Linked DNA regions of Homo sapiens: region 2 is linked to region 1. A link means that fine-mapping ties the variant in region 1 to the expression of a gene that starts in the linked region. Tissue or cell type: whole blood. Region 1 holds a variant in brackets; the other region holds the start of a gene. All regions are shown on one strand. Distances are between the middles of the regions.

Region 1 (5,398 bases):
GCCTGCAATCATAGGAACAACACGTAGATCCAACGCACGCACACTCCAGGAGAATAATGCAAAGGTAAAAGTCAAATATAGTCCCACTCAAACAATAAAATTAGTTAAATGGAAAAATATTTCATGCTACTACAATTTTTATATTTAAATTTTAGCTAATTAAGTAAATCAGATATTCAATTCTTCAATCATAGCAGCCACATTTTAAGTGCTCAGTGGCCACATGTGTCTAGTGATTACCACAATGGACAATGTAGATATGAAGACCTTTCCATCATTACAGAAAGTTATTTTGGATAGTACTGGTCTGGAGTATAAAAAATATAGAAATGATAAATTATATAGGATTTGGGGGGAGTTGCAAAAACCGAACACCATGAATAATATAATTTCCATGGGAAAAATGTAACCCTCACACAACTTTTGTCCAAGACTGGAGGATTTCCTAGATTATCCATTTTAATATCATTTCTTGGTGTGATTACTTAATAGAATAGTAATATATATTTGCCTAGAAAACTTAAATAATGTTTTTGAGAGCTACCTGTTCTTTTTCACCATTTTTTATTTAACAACATAGGACCATTTTTTCATACCATTAAATATTAGTAACAATATTTGAAACAACCTATTAATTATCTTTGTTTACATTATCTAAAATAATCCACAAAAATAACTTCACAATATTTTCACTTTCAGAAAAACAATACCAGTTTTGATCATTTCTGTTTTCTTTCAAACTTACACTAAAACACCAATGAAAACCCTATGTATAACCTATCAATATTTCCAAAAAAGATCCAGTCATATAGGGAATTCAAGCAGCATAAAACAGGTAATAATTATATTTATCCACTGTACTACAAGTAGTAGATACCTAATAAGTTTCTGATGAACCTAACTGATCTCTTGCATTTAAAATAACATTTTAATAGGAACAGAAACTATATATTTTTGTAAAACTAGGTACTTAGCTAAATTGCCAGCTTATTTTTTGGACAAAAGTGGTAACTTTTAAGTTTTATCTAAGTTCCCTCCAAAAAGCATAATCATTTCCTATAATGTATAGAAATACATTTCATTTTTAGTGATATAAACATTATTTATTTCACTTTCTTGCTGTGTAGATCATATTGAAAGTAAAGTAGACAATTAAGGCAGGTATCAGTATCATTTGAAAACAAAAACAAATCATTTTATTTATATGTACATAAAATTGCAGTGAAAGAAGTTTTGAAATATTAGTGTTTAGTTCCATCACATATACCCTGTATCCAGATGAATGAACTGAACTAGGCAGAAGGACTTGTTTTGACTGAGTCATTCCTGTTAGACCAACCTACAGACAGATATGGAAATGTGAGCAAATAAAAACTCCCAGAGTCCTGCAATTTCATTTCTTGAATCGTGTTGAAATTTATGATTAAAATTGCTTCTCACTGTAAAATTTGAAAGAGGTGATGTATTAGTCTGCTCAGGTTTCCATAATAAAATACTACAGACTGGGAGGCTTAAACAATGGAAATTTATTTCTAACAATTCTGTAGACTAGAAAGTCCAAGATCAGCATGCCAGCATGGTTGGGTTCTGGTGAGGGCTTTCTTCCCGGCTTGTAGTCAGCTGCCTTCTTACTGTTTCTTCACGTGGCAGAGAGAGAAAGAGAGCAAGTGCCCTGGCATTTTTTCTTATGATGGCAGTAATCCTGTCATAGGGTACCATGCTCACGACCTCATCTAAGTCTAATTATCTTCTAAAGTCCCCATCTCCAAATATTGTCACGTAGGGAGTTCTGCTTCAACGTGTAAATTTTGAGGGTGAAGGACAACACAGTTTAGTCCATAACAAATAACCAAGCTGAACCAATGTAGTTTTATTCATGTTTGATAAACATGGGCTGTCTTCTCTGCAAGCATGTGTCTGTGACTAAAGAGCAGTCAATAACATGGGATAACCTGGATCGATGACTGGTTCACTTAATTAACAAGAATATTACTTTCTACTTCCAGCCATTCATACAAATATTTTATTTGTTTGAGTCATTTAGCACTAAGAATGATTAGATTCTAATTTCTAGAGTTATATCAAAATATATAAAGTAGTGTGTAGAGTAAATTGTTTACAACTTATGACCTTGTGCATTAACAAATGCCTAAATAGGTTTTTTTCTGCAGCTAAAAAATATGTAGAAACTATTAGAGGTCCAATGTTTGTAACTTTCCAAGATTAGATTTGATATGAATTATATTCATCTTGCTTGGAGGATTCTCCTTCCACACTAACTAGTATGAGTGGAAAAA[G/GA]AAAAAAAAAAGCTAGGTTAGTATTCTACCCACAGAAACTTCTACTTGGAAGATTAAATTTCTCAACATGACTGGTAAACTATTTTGAGCAGTGAACACTCGAAAGTCTTAATTTTCATTTTTACTTGATGGATTTATTTTCTCTTTGCTTTTAACCACATGTTGAGAAATAATTGTCATCACTAGAAATTATTGGGATCATCTCTTATGAGAAAAAGTTATAACATACAGAAAAATAATTTCCAAATACTTTTATTATAATTTATGTTAGGTTATTTTTTTTTATTTCCATAGGCTTTTGGGGAACAGGTGCTATCTGGTTACATAAGTAAGTTCTTTAGCGGTGATTTGTGAGATTTGCTGCACCCATCTCCTGAGCAGTATACACTGAACCCATTTTGTAGTCTTTTATCCCTCACTCCATTCCCACCCTTTCCTTATGAGTCCCCAAAGTCCATTGTGTCATTCTTCTGCCTTTGCATCCTCGTAGTTTATCTCTCACTTATGAGTGAGAACATATGATGTTTTGTTTTCCATTCCTGAGTTACTTCGCTTAGAATAATAGTCTCGAATCCCATCCAGGTTGCTGCAAATGCCATTAATTTATTCCGTTTTATGGCTGAGTAGCATTTCATCTATATACATGTGTGTGTGTATATATATATGTATATATATATATGTGTGTGTATATATGTGTGTGTATATATATGTATATGTATATATATGTGTGTATGTATATATATGTATATGTATATGTATATATGTGTGTATGTATATATATATGTATGTATATATATATGTATGTGTATATATATATATATATGTATGTGTATATATATATATATATATATATATATATATGTATGTATGTATGTATATATATATCACAGTTTCTTTATCCCCTCTTTGGTTAATGGGCATTTTGGTTGGTTTCATATTTTTGCAATTGCGAATTAACCTGCTACAAACATGCGTGAGCGTGTTTCTTTTTTGTGTAATGACTTCTTTTCCTCTGGATAGGTACTCAGTAGTGGGATTGCTGAATCAAATGGTAGTCCTACTTTTAGTGCTTTAAGGAATCTCCACACTGTTTTCCATTTTGGTTGTGATGATATGATTCCATGCATAGAAAACCTTAAAGACTCCTCCAAAAAGCTCCTAGAACTGATAAAATATTTCAGCAAAGTTTCGGTATGCAAAATGAATGTACACAAATCAGTAGCTCTCCTATACACCAACAGTGACCAAGCTGAGAATCAAATCAAGAACTCAACTCCTTTTACAATAGCTGCAAATAAAATAAAATAAAATATTTAGGAATATACCTAACCAAGGAGGAGAAAGATCTCTACAAGTAAAACTACAAAACACTGCTGAAAGAAATCATAGACGACACAAACAAATAGAAACATATCCCATGCTTCTGGATGGGTAGAATCAATATTGTGAAAATGACCATATTGCCAAAAGCAATCTACAAATTCAATGCAATTCCCATCAAAATACCATGATCATTCTTCACAGAACTAGAAAAAAAAATCCTAAAATTCATATGAAACCAAAAAAGAGACTGCGTAGCCAAAGCAAGACTAAGCAAAAAGAACAAATGTGGAGGCATCACATTACCTGATTTCAAACTATACTATAAGGCCACAGTCACCAAAACAGCATGGTACTGGTATAAAAATGGGCACATAGACCAATGGAACACAATAGAGAACACAGAAATAAACCTAAATACCCTAAATACTTACAGCCAACTGATCTTCAACATAGAAAACAAAAACATACATGGGGAAAGGACACCCTATTCAACAGATGGTGCTGGGATAATTGGCAAGCCACATGTAGAAGAATGAAACTGTATCCTCATCTCTTACCTCTTGCAAAAATCAACTCAAGATGGATACAGGACTTAAATCTAAGACCTGAAACTCTAAAAATTCTAGAAGATAACATCAGAAAAACCCTTCTAAACATTGGCTTCAGCAAGGATTTTATGACCAAGAACCCAAAAGCAAATGCAATAAAAACAAAGATAAATAGCTGGGACTTAAAGAGCTTTTGCATGGCAAAAGAACAGTCAACAACAGACAACCCACAGCTGGGAGAAAATCTTCTATACATCTGACAAAGGACAAAGAAAATCTATACATCTGACAAAGGACTAATATCCAGAATCTACAATGAACTCAAACAAATTAGCAAGAATAAAACAAATAATTCCATCGAAAAGTGGGCAGAAGACATGAACAGACAATTCTCAAAAGAAGATATACAAATGGCCAACAAACATATGAAAAAAATGCTCGACATCACTAATGATCGAGAAATGCAAATTAAAACCACAATGCAATACCACCTTACTCCTGCAAGAATGGCCATAATCAAAAAATCAAAAAATAATAGATGTTGTCATGGAAGCAGTGGAAAGGCAACACTTCTACACTGCTGGTGGGAATGCAAACTAGTACAGCCACTATGGAAATTTATGTTAGTTTTGATACCAGGACAAACCAACTTCCTTTTCTTTAAATTTTAGAATGATACAGACCTTTTAATGTCCAGTTCACTGACTTGTGTGTCTTATCACTGCTCTTTAAAAGTAAAATTCTACACACTACAGAGAAAGCAGTAAGTCAGGGCCCCACCTAATTCCAAAAATGATGCTTTGGAAAAGGACAAAAAGGTAATACGAAAAATCCCTTTATATTGAGAAATCTGGTGAGATACTTTTAAAAACTTTCACATGATATGGTTTTGGTAGTATATGATTTAGGCCTGCTTTTGAGTATGATATGAAATCAATCATGTAACTTCGGAAAATGTTAAAACTAAAATCACAGCAGATTTTAAAGAGCATACCCTTGTCAGAATAAATGATAAAAGTTGGCATATAAATTACTTTAGGAGTCAGCAAACAGGGTACATGGGCCAAATCCTCCCACTTTCTCTTTCTGCATGGCTCATGAGCTAAAAATGGATCTTGCATTTTTAAATGGTTAGGACAAAAATCAGATGAATAATATTTTGTGGCATGTGGAAATTATATAAAATTCAAGTTTCAGGGTTCAAAAATAAAGTCTTACTGAAACACAACC
Region 2 (5,398 bases), 260 kb after region 1:
GACAGGCTTTTGTTTCTGAGTATATTTCAAATAGTTATTGTTTTCCTCCCACATGCCAGAAAAAAGAGGAAACTTTTGTCCTGTCTTCTGAAAGTAAAACTCATTAATGTGTGGATGCTCCCATATGAATGACTCCCACTGTCTCTGAGTTTTCAACTCTCAAGTTAGTCCACACTCAGCCTTCAGCAATAGGCCAAATACTGTATAAATGCCCCCCTATCCTTTACTGGCTCCAGTGGCTTTTGCTGTCCTGATAAGCTGTAATTCTCCGTATTCACCTATTTCTTCAGTTTGCAAAGAGGTGGCATGTCCTATGACATCAATTCTCTGCAGATCTAAAAAGAGTAGTTGATTTTTGATTTGCTCATTTTTTTCTTGTTGTGATGATGGAAGTGGAGACTTTCACACCTTTCAAATGTCAGAGCAGAAACCAGAAGTCCTAGTAATAATGTTATATATATATATATATATATATATATATATATATATATATATATATATATATCTCTTTTGACCACATAAAAGGGGGAGGTGCACAGGTCTTATTATTATCATTTTACATATAAGAAAACTAAGGTTTAAAGAGATTAAATGAGTTTCCATGAGAAATATTGCTAACAGACGAAGCTAAAGTCAGAACCTGGATCTTCTAGTGTCTGCCAGGACTCTCCCAATACAGACCATTCTGTTTAGGCATTCATGTATACGAAACAATTTGAAAGAAAAATTTTAGTTTAAGAATAGAGTCATGCATGTTTGGATTTGCTCTGTGGCATAATGTAAAAGGCAATGGCCTAGCATATCCCTAATGAATCTTCTCAGGCCTAATTCAGCCCCCAACTCACTTTTAGACTTTAGAAATTCTCAGCAAATGCTGACACAAGCTTCAGTTTCTCCATGTGAGTGAAGCAAGAATAAACCACATGATCTTGTGACCATGAAGTGAAACAATTCTAGGTTGGATTTAGGCCCTATATTTTTGGAAGCAAGTTTGTGTATGTGTGTGTGTCTTAGGTGTGCATGTGTGGAAAGGGGAACTGATTTCTTCAAAATCTTTCTGAACTGCTAAATTAATCCTCTTCCTTAAGTGAAAAAGCTTTGCTGCTTTAATTCTTTAAATGAAATGTTATTTTGCCTTCCCATCTGCTCATCTGACATGATAGTCTATGGATGTGATTAATGTTTAAGGCAGAACTTCCTTCTAGGAAATGTCATATTTTAACAGTCCTTGTGTTTTCTCCTTCCTGTGAATGCTACACCCATTACCAACCACTGGATGGTCTCGGGTTAAATAGCACTTCCTCAGAGAAGGCTTCTTTGAACTCAGACTAGCACAGAACCTACACTTCCCCTTTCCAACTTAAAGTTTGCATCCTTTGGTGTATGCGAACCCACATGAAGAGATGTTTTTTTTGTTTTGTTTTTTTTTTGAGAGGACTCCCTCACTTTGGGAGGGCGAGGCGGGCGGATCACCTGAGGTCAGGAGATCGAGACCATCCTGGCTAACACGGTGAAACCCCGTCTCTACTAAAAATACAAAAAAATTAGCCAGGTGTGGTGGTGGGTGCCTGTAGTCCCAGCTACTCAGGAGGCTGAGGCAGGAGAATCGCTTGAACCCAGGAGGCGGAGGTTGCAGGGAGCCGAGATTGCACCACTGCACTCCAGCTTGGACGAGAGCGAGACTCCGTCTTAAAAAAAAAAAATACAGATAAATGGCCTGTACAGATAAATGGCTTAGGTGCATCTACAAAGAATTAGTGATTACAAGTGAAATCTTGTAATGTCACAAGAAATGTTAATGACGTCAGTGGTGCAGATGAATTTCTTAATACCAAGTGGAAAAATTCACTTGAGATAATCTTTTACAATGGTGTGAAATTCCTCAGACTTTTGTTTTATCCATAAACTGCACAAATAATACCTCCCTCTGTGACACTTAGAGAGGGTGACATGCTGAGAGTTTCCTGAATAATCACCTCTTGAAATACACAAAACTCTTCTAGTTTCCTGGTTGACCGACCCAGGGCTTGACGACTCCTTTTGAGCCACCTGACAATTCAGTCCAGCACAGCAACTGAAGGAAGGCGTTCCCCAACCTGCTGTCCTATGAAGGCCTCTAGGTCACCGGTGCTAAAGCCCTCCTTTCTCCACCCTCCTTAAGTGGAGGTAAACGTCCCAGCAGGAAGTCAAGGCTGGATTGGCGCTCTTCGCGAGCACCCTGGGAACGGGAGTCTGGGTCACGGGTGCTAGAGCCCTCCCCTCTCCTCCCGGCCGGTGTATGGGAAATTGTCCCCGCAGAAAGTAAAGGCTGGCCAGGCCGCCCCCAGCACGTAGAGGGAATGAGTCAGGCTCCGGCTCCACACTGGCACGTAGTGGGCGGATCGCGCCGGCGCTGAGTAGGAAGGAGCTTCAGCCGCCAGCCCGGAACGCAGTGAGTACAGCCACTCAAAGGAAAGCCAAGTCGCTTTGCAGGGGAGCGTCTCATGATTTTTCAGAAACGTGCTCATGGTTAAAAAGAAAAATCAAGGCTCGGAATAAATACATTCAAGCACTGTTAATTTTAGCCCAAAGACAGGCGGTACTTGCCTGGAGATTTGGGAAAATCAACATGAAACTAAAAATGAAATTTTAGTTGGAGTGGAGCAAGCAGTATTGATCAGAACATACCAAATACGAATTTTTTCAAAGTCTGCGTAGAAGTTTAAATTACTAGGAAAAATGTAAAGGAGAAGTATTTACTAATAAATGAAACAAAAGTAATAAAATAAAAATGAATTAATATAGTTTGACAAAATATCAGCGAACGCTGAAAAGAAAACATTAAAATAATGTTTGAGACTTTTTAGGTTTTGTGCAGGAAGAATTGGGAAAAATGTGCTGGATGGAGTGATACTGCTTTTCTTTTCCACAAAAATTTCATTATTTTAGAGAGCGGTAGAGCCTTTTTAAAGACAGTAAGTTATTGCCAATTCACAATGAAATAAGATCACATGCTCTGAAATGTACAAGAGCTGCATGCAATAAACTTCATTTATCTATAGGTAATAACTGATTGATGTTTATTCAGTAGTCGAAATGCACCTCATGCACTCTAATTAGCACGTCAAATTAGTCTCTCCGTTTCAGAGGTGTAGGGCCTTTGTGGAGCCTTCTCAATAAAATAATTTGCCACTCTTGAAGGTTAGACATTCTCTTCTATCAATGTACACATAAAGGTTTTGTTTTGCTTTGCTTGTTGTGAATTAAAATGGGGAGAAAATGATGTGTTAGCTATCACCCAGTCATGTGTCTTTTTAGTCATAGGTTAGCTTTTCAAGACACTTCCTGCATCTCTGACCTGTTGCACCTCTGTTATCTTGGCACCTCTGTTATCTTAGCAGCAAGCACCTGCCTCAGCTGACCCTTGAGCCATAACCCATGTAAGTCACTGCAGGGCTGAACCTCTCTTTGAGCCTAACAGTAGAATAATAATTATTTTTATTGAATAGTGTTAATGTGTCAATGTTGAAATGTGCCTCAGTGTGTCTTCCTCAACCACATCCCTATAGAGGATGTTTTCTTAATAGCAATGTGTTTTTGTTTTAAGAAAGTCCACACAATTTCAAATACACATTTTCTTTACTAAAGTTTATTGACCAGTTTTGAAGTGATCCTTGTTTTCAGTTAAACTATCTTTAATAATGGTAAATAACATATTTTGTAGGTTGTTGTATATTTAATATTCTCTGCAAGAACACATAAGGAACAATACATGGACCTTTAAATATTTGTCATTGTGAAATAAAATAACAAGGAAAGGTGATTTCAGGTGTACTTTATTCAATACATATATACAAGAAGTTATTACTATAACATTAAATTTGCAGGAAAAAAGAAACCACTGGATTATTCTGCTTCTATTCCAGAGGGCTTATTCCAAAGGGCCAGTGTGCAAAATATGAATCCAAGATGGCATTGTGGAAAGACGCTGTACCTCCTGTGATAAAATTACTTTGGTGGTGCTTTTTTCTCATGTATCTCGGGAAACTAAAAATCTGAATTGTATTCAGTGGCCTTTTCCAAATGGTAACTTTATGAAAAAATGTCTAATTCTTGGTTATTTGTGGTTTTAGTCCTTTCTTCATAGAGAAGCTAAAGCTGTTAAATAAGCTTAGCAGCGTTATCCGCTAAAACTTTCTGCAGTGATGGAACCTACACAGGAGAATTTTTTTTGTAATGTACTAAAAATTTGTCTTCAGGGCTTGTTCTTTTTAAATTGTAGGCTAGTGATCAAAAATATTTGGTGATAGAATAAATTAACATGAAGTACAAACATTATATATAGTTGTGTAATATCCTATCTGCAAAAAGGAGTCTTAGCGTGCTTTTGAAAAATTCAATAAATATAATATGTTAATCACAATTTGGTCACAGATTCACGTCTCAATTGTTTCATTTTTTCTTTTATTTCAGAAGCTCCTGAAAAGTACATCAAGTCTAAAGTGAACCAGCTAACTCATTAAGACTGGAATCATGAGCAACAATGGAGCAGACCTAACCTTTGGTTACATCTCCTGTTTTGTAGCTATCCTTTTGTTTGGCTCAAATTTTGTGCCACTTAAAAAATTTGATACTGGTGATGGTAATTATTTTTCCTTGATTGTTAACGTTATATTATTTTTAAAAATGAAGTTCCTTTTTTGGTCTTTTAAAAGTATAGCTACAAAAATAAATCATGTTGATCTTGATACCTAGTGAATAGAGCTTAAAATTAGTCATTTGACAGTGCTCATACCAGTTTGTCTGAAAGTCAGAATAGGAGAACCATTAAGGTTGTTTCATGGTAAAGTTAGGGAGGGTACAGTCAGGAAATCTCTTGGGCCATTATATGAATGGAAGAAATTTATAGTCAGTTCTACTATAACACCTGTTTTGAAAACATGAATCTTCAACATGATTGATATATTAGAGAACAATGTAAGCATAACAGATTTTTGGCTTGCTTATGTGCAATTTTGTCCCTGAGAAACCTCTAGATAGGCACAGAAGACTGCACCTAGATGAATAAAGATGTGTGATAATACACATAATGCACGCAGACACACGTACAATCTTCAAATATCGACCAGCTCCCTTAGTTCATCACATGTGGTTATGATGTATTCCACCCAACCACATCTCCTGTCCCAACTCCTCACCCAATACCTTCACAGTAACTCGTAAGCTGCAACCCTTTGGATGCTCACTTCCAGGAGCAAACTTCTGGTGTTTTTCAATTAAAATGCCCTATTTATTACAGCATCATGTAATTAACCAGTTAACCAGTTAAAACTGTACTACTATTTTAATTAGGTTGAGTGTTGTTCTCCTAGCCCCATTTTCCCATTATGCTCTGTAGTTTTTACTGCATGATTTTGCA

The links. PIP is the estimated chance that this variant, and not a neighbour inherited with it, causes the effect.
Region 2: TMEM144 starts here. The variant in region 1 is the best candidate, but not a certain one, in a credible set for the expression of TMEM144 in whole blood (INTERVAL, PIP 0.83).

The regions. Positions count from the first base shown.
Region 1 is chr4:157,952,850-157,958,247 of GRCh38, forward strand. All of the region lies in intron 2 of LOC105377509 (a long non-coding RNA gene), which reads right to left. Among named protein-coding and RNA genes, the nearest start is that of GASK1B-AS1, 220 kb to the right of the region's middle. The variant G/GA (reference allele first, on the strand shown) is at 2,298.
Region 2 is chr4:158,208,156-158,213,553 of GRCh38, forward strand. It overlaps TMEM144 (transmembrane protein 144), which reads left to right and starts at 2,331. Exons shown (of 13, transcript NM_018342.5): 1 at 2,331-2,431; 2 at 3,298-3,419; 3 at 4,453-4,621. The coding sequence starts at 4,513. RefSeq lists enhancers at 1,719-2,273, 2,174-2,263.